Linked DNA regions of Homo sapiens: region 2 is linked to region 1. The links come from fine-mapping of genetic effects on gene expression. A gene starts in region 1. The other region holds a variant in brackets. All regions are shown on one strand. Distances are from middle to middle.

Region 1 (11,712 bases):
GTGTTTGTGTGTGTATAGATAAAATTTTTTTTTTTTGGTAGAATAAGCAAATAGACTCCTTTTCTTCAGTTAGGTTCACTGATTTGATTTAGGCTCTCTATAAAGTCTTCTGTCTCAACAGAAGTAGAAAGAGATTTGTCACAAGAGTAGCAAGAACTATTCTTAAAGTATAAAACACTTTACCCATGTGCACTGAGGGCCTGTTGATCTTAAATGAGAATTCTATAAGCCAAAGGCAAATACTGTATATGAAAGAAAACCCAGAACATAAATAGGAAAATAATTTCAAGTTAGCTCTGTTAATCTAATGATCGTAAGTTGGAAAACAAAATATATCACTATCTTGTCTTTAAAATATTAATTCCTTGTGTTAGCCCCTCTGACATTACAAACTTATTATATATTTCATCAGTAGGCAAAGAACTGTACAACTTACCTGTAATGAACCAATAGGATTAAGCTGGTTCTTTGGTTGCTTGGAAGGGTCAGGCATTAAGGGGTCAGGAACTGCAAAGCTAAATATTTTTTAAAAGTGTTATAAAACAAAATAATTTCCCCCGAATTATGAAATAAATGACAAGCATTTTCTAATTAACTCTCTATGTCTTTGCTCTTGTCATTCCTTCTACATGGAATGCCCTTTTCTCAGACCTCTTCTATGGGAATCTGATCGGTCATCCAAGATATATCTCAAATGTCACTTCCTCCAAGAAGCCTATCCTTTTACCCCAGTGGTTTATAATCTCTCCCTTCTTTGAAACATTATAACACATGGTTTAATCCTTTCTTGAAATTGTTTTACCATAAATTATATACTCTTACAAATACATATAATTTGTCCATCCTTCACCACACCTCTCCCCTGTTCAGACAGTAAGCTCCTTGAGGTAGGGCCTATGTATCACTTACCTACATAAGCTTTGTGGTGTTTTGTACATAATAGGCATGCCATAAAAATGTATTTAAAGAATACTCTGTTACAACTATACAAAAAACAGAAGAGTAACAATGATCCAGAAAATTTAGCCTGGCAATGTGAATAATACAGATTATGTGTAAATACTGTTTTTTCATCCACAGAACTATGAAGAGAGATCTGTTTGATCTATCATCTGCTCAGTGCTGGGATAATCCTCTAAGATTTACATGTATCCTGCAGAAAATAGATGGCTTAGATGAATTTGGTTTTAGCAAGTGGGGATTATGATTAGGGAAAAAGAGAACAACCTCTTCTAGGGAGTCTGGAATTACTAGTTACTTAGCAGGTCAGTACTTAAAACTGAATAAGCGGCATTTCAAGGTTAGTACCACCTAGGCAACTGGAGTCATTTTTCCATGACAAATGAGGTTTAGTTATTGCCACTTCCTCAAGGTTTTTTTTTTCCAACTGTGAGAATTTCAAGCTTTACATAGGCTGATGAGATATGAGTATTCACTTACAATGCTGCATGCCGAAGCTACCCAAATAATTGTGATGGAGAAGTGAGAAAGTCTCTGTATTAAGTCAGGCCACTTTAGGCCTGATTACAGCTTAGTAATTCCCATTTTATCTGTCAAGAAGCACAAATATAGTAAAGTTTGTTAGCTTTTTTTGCTGACAAAGTGCCAAGATGCAGAAAGGACACTCCATACCCCTCATTTCTACAAATGTACTTAATGGTTGGGTTCACCTTCAGGCTATACAGAAACAGCATGGCCATCACCAGTGGGGGAGAACCCAATACCTGCCATGTCATTTGGCATGTCTTTTTTTTGTTTGTTTGGAGACAGAGTCTTGCTCTGTCGCCCAGGCTGGAGTGCAATGGCGCGATCCCAGCTCACTGCAACCACTGCCTACTGGGTCCAAGGAATTCTCGTGTCTCAGCCTCCCAAGCAGCTGGGATTACAGGAGCGTGCCACCACACTCGGCTAATTTTTTGTATTTTTAGTAGAGACGAGGTTTCACCATGTTGGCCAGGCTGGTCTCGAACTCCTGACTCAAGTGATCTGCCCACCTTGGCCTCCCAAAGTGCTGGGATTACAGGTGTGAGCCACCATGCCTGGCCTTGTTTTTCTTTGAGGCAGGGTTTCACAGGCTGGAGTGCAGGGGCACAATCTTAGCTTACTGCAATCTCCGCCTCCCGGGTTCAAGCGATTTTTGTGCCTCAGCCACCCAAGTAGCTGGGATTACAGGCGCCTGCCACCATGCCTGGCTAATTTTTGTATTTTTAGTAGAGACAGGGTTTTGCCATGTTGGCCAGGCTGGTCTTGAACTCCTGGCCTCAAGTGATCCACCCACCTCAGCCTCCCAAAGTGCTGGGATTACAGGCGTGAGCCACCCCGCCCAGCCTGGCATAGATCAATTATAATGCATGACCCTAGAGAATCAAGCATCATCTTGTGAAATGCAAGGCTTGTCTTGGGCAGCTGCTTATCTAGAGGGTTGCCATGTCACTGGTTAGTTCTAAACTACCCAAACGGTTTAGAATGATTTACAAAAAGAGAGGAATACTACATGAGAACCTAACTACACCCCTAATCCAAAAGCCTTTCTATGACTAGGGAACAAAAAACCCATCCCAAATTCCCTGGGTCTCTACTGTCAACTATAAGCTGATTACACAGATCGTACTTCAGGCATATGTAAGTGTATGCACAAGAAGAACTTGAAAGCATGCCAAGCTCCAGAGTGCACCCAGTGGACACTACTTTAATATGTGAGATGCTCCAGGACCAATATTCTATCTAGAAACACCTAAAGTAGTAAAAAATCTATCCCAGCACTTTGGGAGGCCGAGGCTGGCGGATCACGAGGTCAGGAGATCGAGACCATCCCGGCTAAAACGGTGAAACCCCGTCTCTACTAAAAATACAAAAAATTAGCTGGGCGTAGTGGCGGGCGCCTGTAGTCCCAGCTACTTGGGAGGCTGAGGCAGGAGAATGGCGTGAACCCGGGAGGCGGAGCTTGCAGTGAGCCGAGATCCCGCCACTGCACTCCAGACTGGGCGACAGAGCGAGACTCCGTCTCAAAAAAAAAAAAAAAAAAAAAAAAATCTTACTTTAGAAAGATATGTCAAGAATTAATATCCCACTTAACATTCTCTTCTTTTGGTATACATTATATAATAAAAGAAAACCTCTGCCTGCTTCTTCAAAATTAGAATTCCCAAAAGAGTACTTTTAGTGGATCTTTCTCCATCTCACACTTTGTTTTCTTCAATGTAGAAATAATCAAAGTCTAAATACAAAATGTTAATATTAATATTTGCAAGAAGCACTGATTTTCTACTGTTGTATCCCATTAAAAAAAAAAAAACAGTAAAGCCTAGTTCATGAGCACCTTCATTTAATAGCTAATTGCTGGATTTGATTGGATAAAGTTTTCTTTAATGGATGATAAGTTTTCATAAGGAAATAGAATTTGAGAGGTAGGATGCTAACAACTGTTCACTTTGTTGCTTTTGTAAGCATGTTCAAATTTTTAATCTTACCTCAGCCATGATATTTTTGAGCTGCTGAATACAAAGAAATTTAGCTCACCAAATACTTGCATTGGCTTTCAAAATGTTTATGGCAGCCTCTGCAGCTCTATGTTTCGCCAGCTTCTTACTTGTACCTTCACCTGAATTAAGATTTAAAAAAAGAAGTCTTTATCTCCCACAAAAATGTGCAGCTTACAAAGATGTTTTCAATACACAAAACAAAGTCACTATAGATTTTACATACACATACTAGGTAATAAAAATATGTACGTTATATACTGTACATAAAAATATGTACATGTTATATACTACATGGTTATATACTGTAATAAAATATTCACCATGTGAAAAAATTTTAAAAAATAACTTTTTAAAGTTCTATATAATTCTATGCATACCTGCATAAAAATCCTTATTTCTACATTATATATGTTTATTATATAACATGGTAATAAAGTAGACCGTGTCACACCTCTGAAGAAATGCAGATTAGTATTTTACTCTTCCTTTATTCCTGGAGGGGAAATTCTTCTGCAGCAAGAAGTTTCTTTTAAAGGAACCATTTACAGCAGAATTGTTTGATAGCAAAATGTGCATAATTTTATTCTGACAGCCTGTCCTATAACGTATCAAACTGCTTTGCTAGGCTGAGCAGTCATGATTATGTGTTGGGTACAACAGGAAAGAGTTTTATGGAATAAGGTGACAGCTTGTTATGTATCTTCTGGACGGTCTGTATCTTCTGCATGGGTAGCTAAGTTGGGACTGGGGATAAGACTGATGTCTAATTTCAGTAAGCAATCACAATGGCAAATGATAAATTCCATCTTTTTCCTTTTAAGTTCAAACTCCCATACCCTCATGGAATAAGTTTCAAGTGTGGCCTTCAAGTGTGGCCCTCAAGTGTAAGAAGACACAGAAACCATATATTTATCTGCTAACACAGGTATTAGGGATATAGCATACAGGGTCCCTGCCCTCAAGAGCCAACAGAGTAGTGTGGGATTTTTGTCTGTTAATAGGCACCTGAAGTATGGAATGGGATATGTTACAACAAGCCTAAGTGCAGGCTGTAGCGGAGGTTGCAGTGAGCCAAGATCATGCCACTGCACTCTAGCCTGGGTGACAGAGTGAGACCCTGTCTCAAAAAAAAAAGAATGAACACTGGTTGTAATGTGACAAAAGGACATCACAAGACTAGAAGGTAAACGTGTAGCTACAAGACTGCAGCTACAATCCAAGTGAGAGATGATGGTGGCCTAGGCAGTAGCAATGGCCAGAAGAGAGAAGCCGACAGATTCAATGGATAGTTAGTGGATTATTAAACGCCAATGGATAGAGTTTAATAACAGACTGGACAAGAGGGAGAAAGACGGGAAGTAGTTAGGAAGACAAAAGCCTACATTTCTACTGAACTAGGTGATTGTGGAGCCTTTACATAGAAAGGGAATGCAAGAAGAATGGGTTTGAGGGAAAAGATGGATTCAGTTTGGGACAATGAGAGGCTTGAGGGGCCTCTGTGTCATCCAGGCAAAGATGCTCAGCAAGCACAGACTGATACACTATTCTGTAACTGGGCTTGGGATGTAGACAGACATTTCAGAATATTAGTCTTTAGACAGTATCAGAAGCCATGGAGGCAGATAAGCTTGCACAGGAAGCCATGGTAGTGTGAGAAGAGGGCGTAGGCAGAACGGTTGCCATAGGTTGTTAATTTGGGGTCTAAAACACATTGAGAGGGAAAAACCCTCCCTTTTCTTGAATTCTTCCTATCTAGAAATAGACTAGCTAAAGTAAGTAATGCAGTGTTGACTCTATGGTTCCCATGGGGACCCTTCCGGCCAGCACCTACAATCTAACTGCCTCACACAAAAAGTTTTAAACTTTTCTTAAAGTGGCATCAATTAAAATAAAAGACTCCAAACTTCCAGGGACACAAACAAATGCTGTCTTCAGATTTTCCAGATGGTAGAACTTGAGCCTTCCTACTAAATTTTTTTCTTGGCATTCTTCCAAATTAAATTTAGCATCCAATGTTTTCTGTGTTTGCAATTAAATAGATACATAAGAAAAATAATGTCCACATTTACAAATGAGCAACTTTAGTTATCATTTGCTCAAGCTCACAGACCAAAAGAAAGCATGAACTTTAAAATTTCATTGCTTTGTGACTTCATTGCTATACGCATGTTACTTATAATCTCTCTGAACCTGTTTCTTCTTGTTTAAAAAGTGGATAATATACAAAATATCTGTTCAGTTTCAAAAACTAGAAGTTATTATGTAATATATGAGGACCTTCTCCCCTTCCTCATTTTGTTTGGATACAGAATCAAAAGTAGCACAATGGACCTAAAGTGCCAAATGAGTCCATACAGAGAGGAGAGACGCTCAGAAAATTCTGGGGTCATGCCTCCTGGCATCCGCTATAATCTATGAAACTTCACAGTACCTACTGACCCAGCTATGACTGCTCCAAGAACCTTTCCTGCTTCCCTCTAATTCTAAGAAGAACCCTAGGAGGATCCTAGGGTATGAGAAGAGCCATGCAGGATCCAGCCATCCGGCTGGGTAACTTTTTAGTTTCTAAGCTTCCTTGGTATGTGGGGAAGAGAAAATTAGGAAGAGAATCAGATGCAGCTGAAAAGCCCTAACGACCTGAGATGAGAGGTCTCAGTTTCAGAGCCTGTTCCTCACAGCTGTCTGGCAAAAAGAGAACTTTTCCGAACTGAAAAGCAACACCAAGTATTGACTGCCAACCCACTCGGTCATCCAGGTTAACTGTGTATACAGACCTGTGCAGGTTATGTCACCAACGGTTACTCTGAAGGTGAAAGTGGGCACGTGTATTTGCACATCAGATCTTTCACATTCATAAACTGGGATGTTCTTGGTCTTCATGCCGTATTCGTGTAATACCTGAATCGGTGTTTTCCCTGGCTTAGCTGTTATCATCTTCCCCAAACTGCAAAAACCACAAAAAGGTGTGCTTTGCATGCCAAATTGGAGATTGAAGCAGAAGCGTAGAGGCCAGTTTTAACCGCCACCGACGGTGACGAGGGAGGCGCCGAGTTCCCCGGAGGCCAGGGCCAGAGCTGGCGAGGCTGGGGCGCACCTGTCTTCCGGCCCCGCTGCGGCAGTCACTCCGCAGGAGCAGGCGGGGTGAGCGAGGTCTTTAGAGAGAGCACTTGAATGCGGGTAGGAGAGATTCTCAACAGAACAGGGCTGGCAGCAGCGCCGCAGCCTCTCAGGGAAAACCTGACGATCCCTTCCCGGGCGCGCCGACCGAGCGTCACCTCCGCCCGCCCCGCGCGCCGCCAGGGACCACGAGAGGGGCGGGGCCCGGCCGCAGACCCCAACCCTCGCCGCCGAGAGGGCGGGGCCGAGCACCCACAGCCGCGGAGGCGTGGGCGCCGGGCACGGCTTTACCCAGAATGCCTCTGGAGGGCCGGCTCCCCGCGCCCCGGCCCTGCCGCCCAACGCTCCCGGCCCTGGGGCCCTGACTGCCCGCACGCTGACCTGAAGGTCCCACTGTCCTCGCGCTCCAGCGGCGGGGCCTCGGCGCGGTGCCTGCTCTGGGACATGGCGAGAAGGGACGGCTCAGCGGCTGGAGGAAGAGCGGTGCGGAGCGACGTGCTCGCTCCCCGGGTCGCTGGTCCCCGGGAGGAGCTCCAGCGCCGCCACCTCCTCCGACTCCCCCGCCTCCTGCTTGCGTTGCTCCAGCGAGGGGGCAGGCAGGGTGGGGGCGGAGCCTTGGTGCCGTAGCTCCGGCTACGCCCCCTCGCTGCTCCTCTGCGGGCCTCCGTCCCGGCCCAACTCCGCCCCTGTCCCTTCCAGGGTCCGCCCCCTTCCCGCCCGGCTCCGCCCCGCTCCCGCGTGGGCACAGGCATTGGGCTCCCGGGGGTTCTCCGCGCCCGCCCCTGCCGGCCCTGACCAGCCTGTAGTAACTGGCCCCTAGGCCGCAGTTCTTTGTCCTTAGCAGGAGGCCGTTTCTTGCCGGGAGAGAGGGATTAGAGGGATTGTCCGGCGTGGGTCTAGGGTCGTTGAGGCCTAAAGTTAAGCCTTTGTGGGGAGGACGGATTGGGGGCTGGGTCACTTTAAGAAAAAGATTCTAAAATTACGAAGGCAGAATTCCAGGGAGTCTCCCGGGCCTGGTCCTGAAGCTTGAGACCCCGGATATATACGCTCCAGGGGGCTGCGGTGCGCTCTTCGGGTCCCCGAGCCCTGTGTTTAGGAACACGCGGGGACGTCCAAACACCCGCTCCTCTCCCGCCGGGCGGGCTCCTTTGTCTTCTGGGCTTTCGTCGCGAGATGGAACGCTGGGTCAGTGCATCCCAGCAAAACACGTTAGGAGTAAACGAAGGCCTTTCCGGGGACCTGGGTAGTCGGTTGTAATGGCGTTTGCCTGGGATGCAGCACCTTTGGTGGGCCATTAGATGACGTGTCGCTTCTCCAGGGGCTTGCTAGGCACTAGCAGAAATGCTCCCCTGTGCTTACTCGGTGTTATGGAAGATTGCTTGCACAATGCTATTCGTACGAAAGGATATTATTAAAAGTGATTTATGGGCGGGCGCGGTGGCTCACGCCTGTAATCCCAGCACTTTAGGAGGCCGAGGCTGGCGGATCGCCTGAAGTAAGCAGTTCGAGACCAGCCTGGCCAACATGGTGAAACCCTGTCTCTACTAAAAATACAAAAATTAGCCGGGCGTGGTGGCATGCGCCTGTAATCCCAGCTACTCGGGAGGCTAAAGCAGGAGAATCGCTTGAACCCGGGAGGCAAATGTTGCAGTGAGCCGAGATCGCGCCACTGCACTCCAGCCTGGGCGACAGAGTCAGACTCCCTCTCAAAAAAAAAAAAAAAAAAAAAAGCGATTTGTTGTTTTGTTAGCATGTAAGCCCTGGATGCTTGAAACAAGTGAAAGATGTTCAGAATCTAATCAAATTATATCATCTGATGCTTTAATTAGAGCCTATTCTCTCTTCCTCTCCGTCTATATATGTATGTATATAGATTACTATCCATCACTGTTTTAATGGATATCTTATTGGAAGGGCTACATAGTCAGTATTTCACAATATATGAACTCCGCATAACACCTATGGCAAAACATTTCAGCACTCAGGTAAAATTCATTTTTTGCCACAAAATTACTTAAAAACAGGCCAGAACTTTATATAGCTCTTGTTAAAGGTTAAGTAGCTGGGATAATAATGAAACAAAAAGATGCAGCAGGACTCCATTTCAAAGAGAGAGAGTCTGTGTGCCCAACTTCAGAGTAAGAAACCACTAGGTAATAGTTTATATAGTTACTTATATGTAATGTGGCTTTATTTTTTAAATAAAGATTTGCATATAATTGTTTATATCTGTGAATTTATATTTAATATTAAACACAGTTTTGTAAGCATATAAGATGGAAAATGAATGAAATGCTCAATCAATGAGCTGTATGCCATGAGGATTCAAAACAGCACTTTGGTGTTGCCAAAATTCCGGTGGTGGACTTGTGAAGGAATTCCCTTTGGACTAGGTCCACTGTAGATTGTATCCGGGACTATCGTTAGTGCCTAAATTGCATTGCTTCCCACAGCACTATATGCTTCCCTTAAAATTGGCCCATTGCCAGTGGCAAATCACTATCTACTGTGATCCTTATCATAGACATTGGTCATATTTTTACGTTATTAGTTTTCTGTGTATATTTTAGTGCTATAGCCTGCCATTCCAAGTTAAACATGCTCTTAGCATATCATTTTACACCGTTGATCTATAATTCATTACCTGAGCACATGAGCAGAGGCAGGGAATTATACAGTGGTAAACTACTTGGTGAAACCATGCTTTGTATTTTTAAGATGTATAATTATATTTAAAAACAAGCAATGCTTAATTTTGTGCCTGATTTTCCTCTTTAAAAATGGATTTATCTGGGGGTTGCAGTTGATGACGTTTTGATTTTAATATGTTTGCTGCTGCTACCAAGAGCTTTGTCAAGCAAGTTGGAGATGGAGGGAGATTAGTTCCTGTTCCAAGCCTCAGTGAAGCTGACAAATATCAACCTCTAAGTCTGGTGGTAAAAAAGAAGCGATGCTTTCTGTTTCCTAGATATAAATTTACTTCAACACCTTTTACACTGAAAGATATTCTCCTAGGAGACAGAGAAATTTCAGCTGGTAAGTTTAAATGTTTGGGAGTGCCAACTCATTCATCTGTATTATTGGCAACCTAAACATAGGTCATATATGCTACTTATGTTAGTAATACACATTTTCAATGATTAAAGCAACTTTTATTATGATGTTAGTGTAATAACATTATTAAGATTAACAATGCCAAAAGTTTGTATAATATCAAATCTCTTATTGGTCAAATAATTTTCAAATCTATCAATTATTTTATAAATTGTTTTAACCAAATCAACTTAGAATATGACATATTTCTTCATCTATAAAATGGGATATTATTTGGGCTTACCTATGTTACATGGTCAAATGAGATGAAAATAATTTGTATTTATTTTTTACAATTCAATTATTACAATTGGTAAACTGAAATGTATTGAAGGGTAGGTTATATAATAAGCTGATATTTTGATGAGTTACTACTTATAAACGCTTATTTTTTCTTTTAATTGCCCGGTGGATCTTGATGCTTAAGAAGTTCTGTTGGCTGAATAGAAAATTTGAGTTCCTTTTAAGAATTCTGGCTATGTGTTTCTTTTTGTTGTAAGATTAATTGAATTACTACTTTAAGTCTTGGTGAGTCATGTTGCCTTTCTCTAACATTTGGGTATTTGAGTCTTCAATTGTTAATTTAACATGTTACTATATATAATCTACATAAGATAAAGATGTTTAAAAAATACTGAGTTTCTTCTTATAAAGGTATTTCATCTTATCAATTACTGAATTATGAAGATGAATCAGATGTTTCACTCTATGGAAGGCGAGGTAACCATATTGTAAATGACGTTGGGATTAACGTTGCTGGATCAGATTCCATTGCAGTGAAAGCTTCATTTGGTATAGTAACCAAACATGAAGTGGAAGTATCAACATTACTCAAAGAAATTACTACACGGTCAGTATAATAATCCTAATATATTTCAGTGTTTTCATTAAATACTTTAGGTATATAAACTTCATTACAAAGAATGCTTAAAACATTGAGGTTGTATTTTACTAGTGTAATTTGCTAGATATGTTTGAAATACATTGGTAGTATATCCAAACTTTGAATAAGGATAGATATCAAAAATCACTTGGCTGAAGTCAGAGACCTCAGGGCCCCAGATCAAGGAGCTAACTGATGAAGAGGCAGAGAGGCTGCAGCTAGAGATTGACCAGAAATAGGATGCAGAGAATCATGAGGCCCAGATCAAGAATGGCAGCCTTGACTCCCCAGGGAAGCAGAAGACTGAGGAAGATGAGGAGGAGGAAGATGAGAAGGACAAAGGAAAACTGAAGCCCAACCTAGGCAACAGGGCAGACCTGCCTGATTACCGCTGGACCAAGACCCTGTCGGAGCTGGACCTGGCGGTCCCTTTCTGTGTGGACTTCCAGCTGAAAGGGAAGGACGTGGTGGTGGCATCCAACGGCGGCACCTCCAGGTGGGGCTCAAGGGGCAGCCAGCGATCATCGATGGGGAGCTCTACAACGAAGTGAAGGCGGAGGAGAGCTCGTGGCTCATTGAGGACGGCAAGGTGGTGACTGTGCATCTGGAGAAGATCAAGAAGATGGAGTGGTGGAGCCGCTTGGTGTCCAGTGACCCTGAGATCAATACCAAGAAGATTAACCCTGAGAATTCCAAGCTGTCAGACCTGGACAGTGAGACTCACATCATGGTGGAAAAGACAATCTATGACCAGTAACAGAAGTCCATGGGGCTGCCAACCTCAGACGAACAGAAGAAACAGGAGATTCTGAAGAAGTTCATGGATCAGCATCCGGAGATGGATTTTTCCAAGGCTAAATTCAACTAGCCCCTGTTTTTCCCTCCCTGAACTCTTGGGGCTGAGCTGCAACCACCCAACTTTCTTTCCCACTCTTCTCTGGGACTTGTGGGCCTCAGGGCTTGGGGCAGGCATGGGACTGGCCCAGGCACACAGGTCCCAGGGCATCAGGAGAAAGGCTGGGGCTTGGGGTCTTGTCCTCCCCAGTTGGCCTACTGTTACACATTAAAATGATTTGCCCAGCTAAAAAAAAAAAAAAACCACTTGGCTTAAACAAAACTTTTAATTGTTCCACAAAA
Region 2 (16,964 bases), 29 kb before region 1:
CAATTCTCCTGCCTCAGCCTCCCTAGTAGCTGGGATTACATGTGTGCACCATCACACCCAGCTAGTTTTTGTATTTTTATTAGAGACGGGGTTTCATCATGTTGGCCAGGCTGGTCTCGAACTCCTAACCTCAGGTGATCCACCTGCCTCTGCTTCCCAAAGTGCTGAGATTACAGGCGTGAGACACTGCACCTGGCCTGGGTGACCTCAAATTTTTAAATGAAGGGATTGGAGGTAACATCTAGGATTTTATCTAGTTCTGTCTTCTATGATTCAAACCCCAAATTCTCCACTGCAATGACTGCTTCTGGAATAAATATTCCTGGTTGCCTGTCTCTGAAAAAAAGCTCTCACATAAGGCTAATGAGAGGCGAAACTAAGGCAGGATCTCTCCTTTCAAGACCACATAGTCAGGGTTGTTTAATAAGCACACAAAGTAGAGACATATTTACCCATTCACCATGAAAAAACACCCCTATAAAAGGCCCAATACCTGGGCTTAATAGCTTCATTTCTTGTGTGATCTTGCAGTGTACATCAAAAAATTAACAAATAACATCCAGTGACATGATCTTGGCTCACTACAACCTCCGCCTCCCGGGTTCAAGCGATTCTCCTGTCTCAGCCTCCCTAGTAGCTGGGATTACAGGCATGCACCACCACACCCGGCTAATTTTGTATTTTTAGTGGAGATGGGGTTTCTTTCTCCATATTGGTCAGGATGGTCTCTCTCGAACTACCGACCTCAGGTGATCAGCCCGCCTTACGCCTCCCAAAGTGCTGGGATTACAGGCGTGAGCCACCGCCCCTGGCTCCCCCACCGGCAATTTCTAAAATGTATCGGTCTCCTCCCAAGCCCTTGTTCCTTCATCCCCCACCCGGGGCAGATTCAGACAAGCATTTATTTTAGTTCCTAAGCCGCGCGGTGCTCCCAGCTTCCGCGCCTCTGGGCGGCCCACACCCCTCCCCATCCTCTCCTCCGCGCCGCCGTCTTCGTTGCTCTTGGGTGGCCGCGGCGCCCGCTCCCTCTGAATTCGCCGGGCAGGGATACAGCCGCCCGGGGCCTCTTGCTCGTGCTTGGTTTTCCGGACCTTGCTTCCTAAAGGGTCTTTAGGGGTTCCCGGACTCCTCCGCCTGGGAGCCTCTATCCGCCTGGGAGCCTCTATGCGCCCCGCAAAGCCCCCGGCAGAGCCGAGGGGAGGCTTCATTGGCGACCTGGTGGGGCCTCGCGGCCCTGCTCCCTGACGTCAGCGCCGCCGCGGTGATTTAACAGCTTTTGTTTTGGGCAGAAGAACCTATGGGCACAAAAAGCAGGAACGAGTAGCGGTGGCTGAAGAACGAGCAGGAGCTTGAATTTCAGTTTTCTTATGAGGAATTTTCCAGAAAAGATATCTTCACTGTGAAATAACTAAATAAATGCCCACTCAGTACAGTAAGTATTGATATCGTCCTATAGCATTTGGCTAGAAAGTGGTGTCAATAGGGTTTTTCCTTCAGACTTTGCAATACTGTTCAGAAGGGCCAATGCCAATCCTTCTGTGAGGAAGTTTTTTTCTTCCTAAATATGTTAATTGCCTCAACTTGGACTAACGGTCACACTTGTGAATATGAGTGTAAGAAACAGTTTATTTCTCACATGTATGAAAAGGAAATTTTCTTTCATCTATCTCAGGCCCCTATTCAGCGTAAAATCAAGATTATTTAACTTGCAAGATTAAACAACGACCTTATTTCAAATGAAATAAAATTCAGTCTGATCAGAAACCCCTTGGAGCAGTTTATATTAACCTAATTATCTTTTTACTGCAGTAAGTTAATTGAGGATTATGGAATGCATCTAAAAAGCAGTTATATTTACAGGTCCCAAAATTAAATGCTAAGGAAAAGCATTTCTGCAAACCCAGGTAGTACGGACAAACCGAAGGGAGTTTTATTCTGTCAAGTTTTACTCTAAATTCAATCGTTGATCAGCTAGATCTCGGCTTGGTTATTCTTGGAGGAGCTGCCTTGCAAATGATTCCACTCTGAGCTCGCCGGCCACAGTAGCGTGAAATGGATGGCAGTCAGTTTCCTCTTCCTAAGACTGGGTGTGGTTTCTCTGGGCAGACTACACAGTGGCGACTCTGGCGGGATTTGAGGAGCCTGGAGAGGCCCACCACGTGTGTGTCTCCCCCTAGTGACCAACGGGCTGAAGTTCCTGTGGTTAAAGGCAATTGCTGATTTTGTCATTAGCAGGAAGGTGAAGCTCAACGACCTCCTGCGTGTACAGCACCATTCTAGAAGCTGGATGTGTTTAAAGATATGATGCAATATGTACCCAGAAGGCATAAGACTAGATCACTAGGGTACAAATTAAAATATCAAGTTGCATACGCTGAGTATGGGATTAGGTCAGCGGAACACGCTTTGGAAAACACTGCTTTAACGACCTCATTCTGAGTCCCTGTAATGCTTAAGATTATAGCACAGTTTAGGCACCTTATATACATTATGATGGAATGCTTTCCTAGAGTGATATTCTGTGGTGGAAAGAGCAAATCAAAGGTCTTTGTGTTCTCTGTGACCGTGGAAGAAATTGCCATTAAGTAGTAATATAAATAGGGGTTTTAAAAAACGTGGGAAAAGTCTGAAGAAGCATTTGCAGAAACTCCTTACAAAGTCAGTGACAGCTAGGCCAGGCCAAGGTGGGCGGATCACTTAAGGCCAGGAGTTTGAGACCAGCCTGGCCAACATGGCAAAACCCTGTCTCTACTAAAAATACAAAAATTAGCTGAGCGTGGGTGGCTGAGATGGGAGAATTGCTTGAACCCAGGAGGCAGAGGTTGCAGTGAGCTGAGATCGCACCACTGCACTCCAGTCTAGGCAACAGTGCAAGACTCTGTCTCCAAGAAAAAAAGGAAAAAAAGACATGTACTGTAAATGTAAAATATAAAATATAGGCTGGATTTCAGAGACATAGTATGTAAAAAAGAATGTAAAATATCTTAATAATTTTTATATTTATTACATGTTAAAATGATAATGTTTTTGACATATTAGGTTAAATAGAATATAATTCAATCAGTTTCTTTTCTCAAAGAGTGTGGCTACTAGAAATGTTTAAATTATGTATATGGTTTGCATTATATTTTTTCAGACAGTGCCGATGTAATAGTAACAAAAAGTCTCAGCCTCATTTAAGATAAAAGGCCATCATCAGACAATGCAGGACAGATTGTAACAATAGGAAGTACTACAGAGATTCAGAGAATGCCATAAATAACCTTGGAATCCTGTGCTTGGGTAAAACATTTGCTTTTTACTTAGCTGATCCCTTAAAGCCTGTTAAGTTGAAATGTTACAGAGGGAATTTTATATTAGAGTTGGCCACCTCAATTTCATAACTTTTTAAGGAGAAAATGGCTTACATTTGTGCATCTTCAAGGTTTTCAAAGCATTTGCACATTTATTATCTCATTTCATCTTTCTAACCTGAGAGGAAGGTAGAGCAGTTTATCCCCATTTTACTGGTAAGGAAACTGAGGCTCAAAGAGTTCATGTGATGTGAAGAATATTGGAATTAAGGATGCCAGAGAACAATGACTCAGAGTGACCAAGTCATTATGGGGTCCATTTGGAGGTCTCTATGTAGAGGGAGAGCTTCCTCAGGGACTCCTGCAGACATCTCCTTATTGGAGGACAGGAGGAAGCTTGAAGACACTTTTCCCCACTCGGACTCAGTACTGAGTACTTTTCCACTCTAAGTCCTTCACCTTCTCCTCATCCCAGGCCCTGGGTCCATAAAACTGCAGGAGCCTTTTGTTCAAGGGTTCTCTCAGCAAAGCTGTGCTGATCCACCTGACCCTGGATTGGTGCCATTCTATCACAGCATGGGATTAAAGCCTTGACCCTTCCTTTCATATTGGCTTATTGTCTTCACTGCTTTTCTGACTTCTGGCACCTCAACTCTCTGGAACTAAGCTCGGCCCTTGACAGTTAGACCTGCTGTCTCTTCCCACTCTGACTTCCCTCTTGTCTCCCATCCCAATACTCTTCCTTGCTCTGGCTAGGCACAACCCCCGACTTTAAAGTTTTGGAGTGATCACGGGCATTTCTGGGATTTGGCCAAGGGATAAATTGAGTTGAGACTACATTGAGTTTGGGTTTAATGGGATATATGTATGTGGTTTGTAGTCACATCCATGTATAGTTAAGTAATGGTCATACCACTACTGGAATGGTTTCTAGGAATACTCCTACTAGTGACTATGCGGGTTCACATACACCCTACATATAAAAGCAGGGCCAGAGGTCACACTATGATATGAATGTGACCTATTGCTTGGCATCAGAAATATGCGGGTAGTGGAGAAGAAACAGATTGAAATGAACTGTGGTAGATCCATTGCAAGAATGTCTCCAATACTTCCCTGTAGGCAGACCCTTTGCAATGTGATTTTTTTTAACTCTACCCGTGAAAAGTTGGGCCCACCTCTTGAATCTGGGCGGGTTTCGTGACTTGCAATGCTGTGGAAAGAGTCATACTTGAAGAATAGGGGTGCTTTAGTCTCTAGGAAGGCGCTACTTTAAACCCATGCTAACAAAGCTTTTAAAATACCCCTCCTATAAGAATCAATGTGATCCATCACTAAATTAACTGTCTGTGAGAAAAAAACTCAATACTCTTTAAAGGAAGACAACAAAATCTTGATTCACAGCAATGTAGAATCTGTAATGTCCAGCATATAATCTATCAAAATATAAGAGAATCAGAAAAGCAGGAAAACGTGACACATATTCAGAATATATATTGCTGGACAGTGCTGATCACCTGTGTTTTCCAACACTGGAGGACTTGTGGAATCTTGACTCAGCTTGTCACTCATCAGTGGTAACTGTTCTCTGCTGGCCCTCACAGAGTCTTACTCTGCACATGCACAGCTTTGTATTTGGCTAAAGACTTCAGGGGAATCCCTATGCAGGATTCTGTAGTTCCTTCTCTACACCACTCCTTATCCTCAGGTACTCTACCCTACTTACTCTAGGCAATTCAGCATCCCTGAGGTCTCTCTGGACTTCACTTTTCCATTCTGCAGTCCAAAATGGGCTCTTGAGCAGAAATCTAGGGCCACCAGGGGGATCATCTCATGTGTTTCCCCTCTCTCAGGTTAGCAATCTGTGCTGTTGTCTAAGATTCTTTGCTTGGCCCCAAACTTTAATCAGGCTCCTGAGCCTTCTACTAAGCCCATCTGTGCACTTCCATGTAAAAGCCAGTTGTAGCAAGAACGCTGCTTAGTTGGGTTAGCAAGAATCCCCACCTTTGATATCTGATCACCCTTGATATCTGATTGGGTTCCTCAGCCTCTACCATCCCACAGGTGACATCTGATTAATCTGGTCTGACTTCGCAAGAATCCTGTTAGATTGGTTGGTTTAGGCAGAATTCCCCTTACCCTTGATGTTTCCTCTTAGTAATTGTCTATCCACTGCCACTACCTTGCCCCTTGGCTATAAATTCCCTCTTGCCCATGCTATATTCATAGCTGAACCTAACCTCTCTCCCCTACTGCAGAATCCCATTGTAACGGTCCCTATACCTTTTGAGATAGTCCTAAAATCTGCCTTATTGTGCTTTAACAAGTATCATTTAAAAATTTTTTTTTTTTTTTTTTCAGGAGACAGGGTCTTGCTCTGTCACCAGGCTGGAGTGCAGTGGCACAATCATAGCTCACTGCAGCCTCAAACTCCTGGGCTCAAGTGATTCTCCCACCTTAGCCTCCCAAGTAGCCAGGACTACAGGAGGGTACCATCAAACCCAGCTAATATTTTAAATTATTTTTATTTTTATAGAGATGCGGATCTCACTATTTGCCCAGACTGATCTCAAACTCCTGATTTCAAGCAATCCTCCTGCCCCAATCTCCTACAGTGCTGGGATTACAGGAGTGAGTCACTGTACCTTGCCTCATTGAGTAATTTTTTTCTTTATCATATACAATGTCTGAAAGGAGCTGCCTTCTGTCTTTTGTCCAGTTTTAAAGTTGTTTACAGTGAAAGGAGGGCTAGCCCACACATGTTATTATATCATGTTTGGAAGCAGAAGTCAGTTACCCTTAAATTAGAGATGAGGAAACTGAGGAACTGAAAGGTTAAGCAACTTGCCCCAAATCACACAGCCGTTTACCTGTGATGGAGCTTGAATTCAAACCCAGGCAGTCTGTCTTTAGAGATGCTCACTTAATTATTGTTCTGTACAGCTTCTTAGAAAAATGGCTTTATATATGTATGTAAAATGTTTTGTCCAGTGTAGGTAACATAGTCAATCCTTAATAAAGTCTAGCTAAATTATTCTTTAAAATCCTAAAGCTCAGTATGAATTTGTTCCTAGCCCAGTGTTTCAAAGCAAAAGTCCCATCATGTGAGTTGATCTTTATTAACACTAATTTTTATTACTGTCCTACTATTAACAAATAAAAACAAAGCATTTGCTTAAGTCCTTTATTAAGTGCATGAACAAAATATTAAATCCTTAGCCTGCTTTCTTTTGCCATTAAAACTACCTTTCTTAACTAGAAATATGAGATAAAATGAATAAAATAAACCAAGCAATCAGGCACAGGTACTGTCAGTTTCTGAATTTCAAATAAATCCTGTGCAGTAACACACCCATCTGGCCATAACGGAGATTGCACTAGAATGAAAGCACAAGCTCATAAATAAGAATGTAAATATTTGTAATAGAACCCAGCATTTACTATACTATCTAATTCTTAATCTGCCATCTAAATGTGCTCCAATTGTTCATCTTATTTTAAAAAATTATGACTGGAGACATCTGTAAGTCCAAGCCTTTCTTTGGTTTTAGCTCATATACTTGAAAACAGTTTGCCTCTGTCTTCTGC[CTCTT/C]TTTTTTGGTGAGATATATGTAAATATTTTTCAAACCTCTACTGTATCTATTAGCACAGAATGCTATAAACATGTGGCAGCTATCCATTCACTCAGATCAGCATAGAAAGAAAAACTAGTTTATTCAGGTCTTCTCTCCACGATGTCCCACTCTTGCCCCAGCCCAAGCAGTGAAGCAAAAAAAACCCACATATTCCAATCCATCTACTTCACCCTCTCTAATATTCAAATTGACTGAATAGCTATCAGATCTTCATTACACACTGTTCTCTGCAGATGGCCTTTTTGATAAGTCTTAATCTAAAAAAATTATTGAGGGAAATGAGGAAATCAGAAAATGATAAATTAAGTACAAGAAATTTAAGACTTAGCTTATTGTTATCGTCTCCTTTTTGATATCAGCTGTATTTGTGGCAGAAAGCCATCATGATCTGCTATCTCAATATACTGTCAAGCTGGTAATTCTGAATATGTTGTCAAGCTTGTAAATGTTCTGAGTAGACCACATCTTCAGTAATTTCCACAAGTTTACAATTTTTCAGGTAAAGCTATAATTTATTGCCTTAAATTCATTTTTTCAATGTAGTAAGAGCTGCTGCTTAGTTATAATACTCTGAAACTTCCACGAAACTATCCTTTTTAGAACTCATATTACAATATGGGCTGTTTCATGTTTTTTAACTTCTTTGGACCTTGAGATGCAGTGTTATTCTAGATGCAGCATTACTCACAGTGGACATTGTCCTCAAATTAGCATAATTTCTATTTCATTTCCTACATACTGTTTTGGATAATGTTGAAAGAAATCTTTTGAAAATGCAAATATTTTTTGTCGCGGCACATACACACACTCTCTACAGAAACCTTGTCTTAGTTTGTTTAGTGTTGCTTTAAAGGAATACCTGAGACTGGGTAATTTATAAAGAAAAAAATTATTTGGCTCCTGATTTTAGATGGCTGGAAAGTTCAAGATTGGGCTTCTGCATCTGGTGAGGGCCTTAGGCTGCTTCCACTCATGGCAAAGGTAAAGGGAAACTGGTGTGTGCAGAGATCACATGCAAGAGAGGAAGCAGGGCTGGGGAAGAGGAAGCAGGGGTGGGGAAGAGGTGCCAGGTTCTTTTTAACAACCAGCTCTTTTGGGATTTAATAGCGTGAGAACTCACTCATCCTTAAGGGAAGGCATAAATCTATTCATATGGGATCCACCCCCATGATCCAAACACCTTCCATTGGACCCCATCTTCCAACACCACCACACTGGGAATCAAATTTCAACATGAGATTTGCAGGAGAAGGGACAAACAAACCATATCCAAACCATAGCAACCCTGCCAAAAATAAAAAGCAAAGAAAAAACTGGCTACAAACTCATAATTTATCCTCTCTCTAGAAATTCTAATAAAAGGCAAAAGATATATGATCTGAAGAGAATCCAGAGTATCTCCAATGCTGACTTGTAATTTTATATATCTTAAATTATGTGATTTATATGATATTCTTATCATCTTTTTTCACTAAACTATAACTCCATATCTCAGGTGGGACTCTCAGGGAGCAGACTCAGGAGACAGTAGGCAGAAGGTTTATTAGGGAATGCTTTTGTGATCATCATCCGTGGAAGGAATGGAAAGAAATCAGGATTGGGTGGAAGGAGGACTTGGGTTGTGATACAGTGTCAACAGTGTTCTCAGCTGACCCCATGGGAAACTCTAAAGCTGGTTGGCCCTTTTGATGTCCCATATTGGAGCAAGAAGGTCAGGACTTTGTTGCCCAGTCACTGGATGCAAGGAACCCAAAGATGGGGGTGACCTTGGATGCAGTGACACTCTCAGCTGGTCTCAGTGACTTACCTGGTGATAAAACTCAGTCCTTGATCCTTAGAGGCTCAGAGTCCCCGGTCCCTATAATCTTTTTAGGCTCATAATGGCTGCTACACTGTCCGTTTACAATCAGAATTGGGCAAGAGCATACCAAGAGGTGCATACGTGCAGTGCTTGGTTACCAACATTTTCCTCCTTCCTCCAACTGTAACCGTGGTCCTACCTCCTCTTTATGATAAGATCCATTATCCCTGCCAGGATGTGACTCCTCTTTTTGCCTGCTACTTTCTTGGTACAAGGAACCTGAAGTACCTAGCCCGCAGATGTAGCTTATAATTCAATGAAACTGATGAGTCTCTTCTTGGGTCTCACTGAACTATAAACTACATCTGCTGGTGGAGGTGTTTCACCTTTAGGAAGCAGGACCTCTAAATGACAGGACCCAGTGTTGTGGAGCCAGGAAGCACAATTTCCCCCAAGAGAATCACTGGGAATGATAGAAAGCAGGGCCATTCCTGCTTCTACCTCTTGATTCCTGGACCCATGTATTCTACCTGTTAAGAACACAGCCCTACATAAAGACCATTAAAGTGTCCACTTCATCTTAAAGGATGGTGTTCGTGTTAGGTATGCCTTCAACAAGTTAATTATTCATTCTATCAGGGTAGAGGCTTCTGGGTGATGCAGCATGTAATAATAAGACAAGCAGAGGCTGTGGTCGTTTGCCCACTCTTTCCTCCTTTGCTATAAAACAGGTCCCATGAGGTAGTTCAAACTCTCTGAAAGCCCTCAGTGATGCTGGCCAATGCCCTGCAGATAGAAAAGGAGAATCATTTAGAATATGTGTCTATTCCTGTCAAAATGAGTCACTGCGTCTTGTTAGGATCATTATTGTAAGTCAGCTTGCCACCAAGTGACTGATTGGTCTTCTTGAGGAATAGGCACTCAGCATTGCAGCATTGGTCTCTGTTGTTAGCAGGCTGAAAATTCAGCAGTGAATATAACTAGATCAGCCTCAGTGTATAGGAGCGCATCCTGTTAGGTCTGTTACATAGCCTCCAATCCTGCCACAGTAGTTATTCCAATGCCAGATGCTGGATGTTATTAACCAGCCAAGTCCTGATACTGACTTGGTTGTTCAGGGCCTTTTCCATTATGGATACTTTGTAGTATAGATCAAACGCAGTACAAAGCTCCTAACGCTTTGTGCCCACTCTCATGTGCCCAATCCACCATTTTTATCTCAAAATCTCTTTGTTCCCAGTAGTTTAGTCTATTTTCAGGACCCTGATCCCATGACCAAGCCAGTTGCCACTACCCATGTATATTCTAACCTTGAGACCCTTTCTACACAAATGGACAGCAAAGTATACTGCCCGAAGGTCTGCCCTTTGGGAGGATTTTCCCTTACCATTGACTTTCAGGGCCACCCCTGAGTGGCACAGTACTATAGACACCATCTATTTTGTTTGCCAAAATATACCCATTTGTGAGTCAAATTCATGCATTTTCCTCTTTCATCAGCTCGTCATATGGGATCAGTGACAATAAATGTAAGCCAAGGGAGAGACACTGGTGCAACAGTGGTAGAGACATGGGAGTCTAGGCTGCTTGCTAATGTAACATACTGTGCCCTTTGCCTATGTTTGTGTTCTACATGTATAGAACCCAGCTCATGATCATTGTTCTTGGCTTCATGGCTACTTGACATCCCTTTGTCTGGTGCTATATCTCTATAAAAGCCCAGCAGCACATCAGCAGCTGTTTGTTGAAAGGTGTTTACTTCTCTGCTACAGATAGCATGGCCAGACTCTTGGGTCTGCATTGTGATTTTCCCATTAGGACTTATCATAAACTCCACACAGAATCTTTTCCTATATATCTAATACAACAGCATCTGCTGGGTGGTATGGCAAAGTGGTAAAACTGCCACCTGGACCTGCTTCAGAGCCCTTTTCTGCTCTGGGTCCCACTTGAAATTGGAAGCCTTTTATGTCATCCAGTGTATAGGTAACAGCAAGTATTTCCTGCTATGGCATATGCTGCCTCTAGAACCCATAGAAACCTATCATTCTTTTATGCTACCTTCTTTATGGTGAGAGGTACAAAATGCAATAATTTGTTGCTTATTTTGGAAGGCATATCTTGGCATGCCCTGGACTGTGGACCCACTAGAGAGCCACCAGTAGAAGTTCCTTGAATCTTTGTAGGGTTTGTCTCTCACCTTCGGAGTATATGTGCGGTAGCTCCAATATATTATCTACTTCTTGCTCTTCTGGTCCAGTTAACATGGTATAATTGATATAGTGAATCAGTGATGTTCTGCAAGATGCCCAGCTGGTCTTGGTCCTTCAGACTATATTATGATAAAAGCTGGAAGAGTTAACATGCTTCTAAGAAGATTATACATGTTCACTATTGTCTGATCCAAGGTAATGTGTTTCTGATCCTCTTTTCTAATATAGAAAGGATGCATTTGTCAGATCAACAGCTGCATATTGTATACGTGGTGCCATGTTGTGATTTCTACTTTTTTGAATCTGTTGAGACTTGTTTGAAATATGGTCTGTTCTGGATAATGAGAAAAGAATGTGTCTTCTGGGCTGGGCATGGTGGCTCACGCCTATAATCTCAGCACTTTGGGAGGCTGAGGTGCGTGGATCACCTGAGGTCGGGAGTTCGAGACCAGCCTGACCAACATGGAGAAACCCCATCTCTACTAAAAATACAAAAATTAACTGGGCATGGGGGTGCATGCCTGTAATCCCAGCTACTTGGGAGGCTGAGGCAGGAGAATTGCTTGAACTCGGGAGACAGAGGTTGCGGTGAGCCAAGATCACACCATTGCACTCTGTAGCTGTTGGGTGAAATATTCTGTAAATGTCAGTTAGGCCTATTTGATCTAGTATGTAGTTTAACTCCAAAGTTTCTTTGTGGATTTTCTGTCTGGATGATTTATCTGTTACTGAGAATGGGGTGTTGAAGTCCCCTAATATTACTGTATTGCAGTTTATCTCTCCCTTTAGATCTATTAATGTTTGCTTTGTATAATTGAGTGCTCCAGTGTTGGGTGCGTAGATATATAAATTATTATATCCTCTTGCTGAATTCACTCTTTTGTCATTATATAGTGACCTTCTTTGTCTCTTTTTATAGTCTTTGACTTGTAGTCCATTTTATCTGATGTGAGTATAGTTATTCTTGATCTTTTTTGATTTCTACTTGCATAGATTTTTTTTTCCATCCCTTCACTTTCCGTCTATGTGTGTCATTACAGGGGAGGTAAGTTTCTTGTTAGCAGCATATAGTTAAGGGCTTGTTTCTTTATCAGTTCAGCCTTTTAATTGGAGAATTGAGTCCCCTTACATTCAGTGTTATTATTGACAAGTAAGGACTTACTACTGTCATTTTGTGCTTGTTTTCTAATTGTTGTTTTATAATTCCTCTCTTCCTTTCTTATTGTCTTCCTTTGTGGTTAAGTGATTTTCTCTGGAGTATGTTTTAATTTGTTGCTTTTCATTTTTAGTGTGTCTATTATAGGTTTTTACATTGTGGTTACCATGAGGCTTACATAAAACATAGATATACCAAGTCATCTTAAAGAGATGACAACTTATCTTAGATTAAAAAAAAAAAAAAAGAAAAGAAAAAACTAAAAAAAAAAGCCTTTATACCTTAACTCCATCCCTTCTACATTTTGACTTTTGTTTGTCTCAATTTACATATTTTTATATTGCTTATCTCTTAACAGGTTGCTGTAGCTGTTATTGTTTTTGGTAGGTTTGTCTTTTGGTCTTCATACTAGAGTTATAAGTGGATTACACACCACAATTTCAGTATTGAAGTATTTGGGGATTGTCTTTGTACTTAATTTCATCAGTGGGTTTTATACCTTCAAATGTTTTTGTTTTTGCACATTGGTGTTTTTTTTTTTTTTCTTGTGGATTGAAGAACTCCCTTTAGCATTTCTTTTAAGATGGGCCTCATGGTGGTGAATTCTCTCAGCTTTTGTTTATCTGGGAAAGACTTTATCTTGCTTTGATGGTTGAAGGATAGCTTTGCTGGATACAGTATTCTTGTGTGGCAGACATTTTTTTCTTTCAACACTGAAAATTTCATCCCATTTGCTCCTGGCCTGTATGGTTTCTGTTGAGAAGTCTGTTGCCAGATGAATTGGAATTTATGTTATTTGCTTCTTTTCTCTTGCTGCTTTTAGGACCCTTTCTTTGTCCTTGCCCTTTGAGAGTTCGACTATGCCTACGGGTAGTCTTATCTGGGTCGAATCTGTTTAGTGTTCTCTGACCTGCATACCTGGATATTTATATCTTTCTTAAGTTTTGGGAAAAAAATTTTATTATTTCTTTGAATAAGCTTTCTACCCCTTGCTGTTGCTCAACTTTTTCTTGAACACTAGTTATTCTTCGATTTGGTCTTTTGAGATAATTTTCTATATCTTGTAAGTGATCTTCATTCTTTTTCATTCTTTTTTCTTTTCTCCCCCTCACTGTGTAATTTCAAATGGCCTGTCTTTGAGCTCACTGACTTTTTCTTCTCCTTGATCCATTCTGTGGTTCATCTAATTTTTTTTTAGTTCAGCAAATATATTTCTCAGTAATGAGAATTTTGCTTTTTTAAAATTATTTTAATCTGTTAAATTTCTCTGATAAACTTATAGATTGCTTGTCTGTGTTATCTTGGGGGTTACTGAGTTTCCTTAAAACTGCTATTTTGAATTCTTGGTCAGAGAGCTCACATATCACCATTTTCTTAGATTCAGACACTTGTTCCTTGCTTTATTCATTTGGGGAGGTCATGGTTCCCTATTGCTGTTGTTTTTCTTGTGGATGTACGTCCATATCTTTGCATTGAAGGATTATTTATTCCAGTCTTCTCTGTCTTGATTGTTTTGTTTTCTGTCGGGGATGTTTGCTTAGAGATTCTTTGTGACTTATCTGTTAAATTTCTTATTTTCCCACTAGGTCACTGTCTCCCTTTTGGAACTTGATGGCACCTTAAGCCCAGGTTTGCCTCCACTCTAGAAACTCATCAGAGTGATGCCCTTCTCAAATGGGGGAGGTCCCAAAGCGGATATCCTGGCAGTGTGAAAGGCCGGCTAAAGGTTTGTGCCAAGAGGATCTGTGGAATGCATCTCCTACAGCTGGTGCTGCTGAGTAACCACTCTGATCTGGCATCTTCTTTGATCAAGTTACAGAGCAGAGTTTCCAGGGCTGGGGATTGAAGTCCTGCCTCCTCCCTTTGTCTCTGGTTGTCCTCGGTAATGTTTTTCCCTCAAGGTACTCATGATACTTCCCATGGGGTGAGTCAGGGACAGGTCTCTTTCCAGGGAATCCAGGATGGTAGGGAGGTTGGTTGTCTACCTTGATCTCACTTTTTCCATTGTAGAAACTGTGAGTTGGGGAAAGTTTTCCACACACTTGGTGCTGGACAGATTGTGGCAAGGGGCACCACAGATATAAAAATCTGATTCTTTTACCATGCTCAGAGTTTTTTCACTTCTGTGTCCCCAGGAATTGACTCATCCTCATATCTGAGTTCTGGGATATTGTTGGTGATAATCTCAGTGCTGTATATTTGTTTTTGGTTTTCTGGTGTGGAAGTGAAGCCAGCTTGCGTCTACACTGCCATTTTTGAACTAGAAGTCCACCTGATGCCATGTGGGTCTGCTCTAACAAAGATGCCTGTAGCTGTCTCTGTAGGTACAATTGGAGCTACTACCTCATAAAGTTTGTGGTAGCCCACTATCTGGTTTTTGGAGGGGCTAGACTGGTAAATTAAATGGAGATACAATTTGAACCATCATCCCCGAATCTTTTAGGTCTTTTAGGATGGCATTAATTTCTGCCATTCCCTGAAATATTATTTTTTGATTTACTGTATTGGTATGGAGAAGAGGTCAATTTTTAAAGCTTCCACCTGGCCACTTGGCCTTTATCACTATGTTAGCTCTTACCACACACACCGAGAAACCTGGTGCCACTAATCAAGTGTATTTATCACAATTATACACTCAAGGACTAGGTGGGTCTGTGGATATATTGTGAGCCAGACTTGGGCCAGGACACCCTAGGACTTGGCCTCCATAACCCTTACTCTAATCAAGGGCATATAGTGAGAGTTCTGTGATATCATTGTTAACTCAGACCCTGTTTCCAACAGATATCAAAATGTTGAGTATTCCCCTTTCACCACTGTATGATTTCCTGAGTAATGGTGATAGGTCCCTTTGGAGAAGGACTAGAGGAATCATTATTGTGCACACTTGTGGTATTACACAATCCTTCCTCCTGGGGACCCAGATTCTTCTTTAGTTAATGGGCCTGGATCCAAAAACGGACTCAGGTCTGGAAATCGGACAAGGGGTCATGATTATTTTTTATTTTTATTTATTTATTTATTTATTTATTTTTGAGACAGAGTCTCCCTCTTTAGCCCAGGCTGGAGTGCAGTGGCACAATCTCTACTCATGGCAACCTCCATCTCCTGGGTTCAAGCAATTCTTTTGCCTCAGCCTCCCGAGTAACTGGATTACAGGCGCGCACCACCTTGCCCGGCTAATGTTTGTATTTTTAGTAGAGACAGGGTTTCACCATGTTGGCCAGGCTGGTCTTGAACTACTGGCCTCAGGGAATCCACCCTCCTCGGCCTTCCAAAGTACTAAATTTATAGTCATGAGCCACTGCACCCCGCCAGTTTAACTTTTTTTTAATTGGCTTAGTTGCCAAGAGAGGAAGTTGGGGAGGATCCTGAGGAGTGTATGTTTTGTCCTTGGAGAGAGAGCTCATTGTCTTCAAGCAAAAGAGGGAGCACACTAGCCCTTATTAGAGAAGAGAGGGGCACTTCTGTAGCCTTAGAAGGTTCTGGAAACCTGAGGATTGAAGATTTTTCAGGTGCATCAACCCAGATGGTTTCATCCCATGTGTCAGGGTTCCATTTTTTCCCAATCAGGGTCCTGACAACAGCACAGTAGACCTGCCTAGCTTGGGTCCTAACTTCTTTGGAGTTTTATTCTCATGACTAAGTCCTGGGCCTGGTCCTCAGCTTCCTCTCCTCATTGGCTTGAGAACCTGAGAGTCTCATATTCTACGAGGGAGGCTTTCTGGCCCTCACACTGAGTTTTTGTTTGTTTTTGAGACAAGATCTTGCTTTGTCACTAAGGCTGAGTGTGTAGTTGCACCCAGGCTGGGAGTGCAGTGGCACAGTAAGCTACTGTAACCTTGAACTCCTGGACCCAAATTATCCTCTGGCCTCAGCCTCTTGAGTAACAGAACAACAAATGCATGCCACTATGCCCTGCTGATTTTAAATTTTTGTGGAGATGGGCCTTGCTATGTTGCCCAGGCTGGTCTTGAATTCCTGGCCTCAAGCTATCCTCCCTTTTCAGTCTTCTGAGGCACTGGAATTACAGGCATGAGCCACGGCTCTTGGTCCCACACTCAGCTTCTAATTACCAACTAATCACTCTCATTCTTTTATTTTGAGACAGGGTCTCATTCTGTAGCTCAAGCTGGAGTACAGTAGTGCAAATATAGCTCACTGCAGCCTCAAACTCCTGGGGTCAGGTGATCTTCTTGCCTCAGCTTCCCAAATAGCTAGGACTACAGCCACAAGCTACTGGGCATGGATAATTTTTTAAATATTTGTAGAGACAGGGTCTCGCTATGTTGCCCAGGCTGGTCTCAAACTCCTGGCTCAGCCTCCCAAAGTGCTGGGATTACAAGTGTGAGCCACTATGCCTGGCCCATTCTCATTCTTCTGTTATCTTTTTCCAAGGTATCGGTCTAGCTCAGTAATAACTCTTCAGTTCCACTGTCTACACTGTTTCCCACCTGATCTTCGTGCCTGCCGGTGCATTTCTTTGTGTTGACATGCCATCTCAGTTCACCACTAGTCAAAGTTTTAATAACTGCACTGTCAGGGTGTGCTAGCAGTTAACTTCTCCCTGCCCCAGTGAGGAGACTCTCATCCTATAAGTGAGAAGGCAAGAGAAATGGCTCCAAAAGCACACTGGAGCACCTACTTTCCTGCAACCCTTCTGATACCAAGTATCACAGATGCTGAGATGAAGATTAGTGGGTAGGAGATTTGGATTGCCACCTGTGGAAAGAAAGGAAACTCCACTGGGTGGAGGAAGAATATGGACTATGATGCAATCTCAAAGGTGGCCTTAGCTGACACTAAGGGGAACTCTGAAGCTAGGATGGTCTTTCAGATTGTTCTAATATGGGGCAATGGGACTAG

The links. PIP is the estimated chance that this variant, and not a neighbour inherited with it, causes the effect.
Region 2: its variant is fine-mapped to the expression of PJVK in whole blood (TOPMed, PIP 0.97).

What each region holds. Positions count from the first base shown.
Region 1 is chr2:178,443,986-178,455,697 of GRCh38, forward strand. PJVK (pejvakin) reads left to right here and starts at 7,393. Exons shown (of 7, transcript NM_001042702.5): 1 at 7,393-7,784; 2 at 9,403-9,635; 3 at 10,347-10,542. The coding sequence starts at 9,425. PRKRA (protein activator of interferon induced protein kinase EIF2AK2) reads right to left here and starts at 7,190. Exons shown (of 8, transcript NM_003690.5): 1 at 6,981-7,190; 2 at 6,257-6,426; 3 at 3,520-3,601; 4 at 437-515. The coding sequence starts at 7,045. It also overlaps the pseudogene NUDCP2. RefSeq lists an enhancer at 6,346-6,920 and a silencer at 6,683-7,462.
Region 2 is chr2:178,412,682-178,429,645 of GRCh38, forward strand. CHROMR (cholesterol induced regulator of metabolism RNA) reads left to right here and starts at 978. Exons shown (of 5, transcript NR_110204.1): 1 at 978-1,432; 2 at 13,685-13,980. RefSeq lists enhancers at 742-1,317, 1,147-1,346, 1,848-2,107, 1,895-2,469. The variant CTCTT/C (reference allele first, on the strand shown) is at 6,882.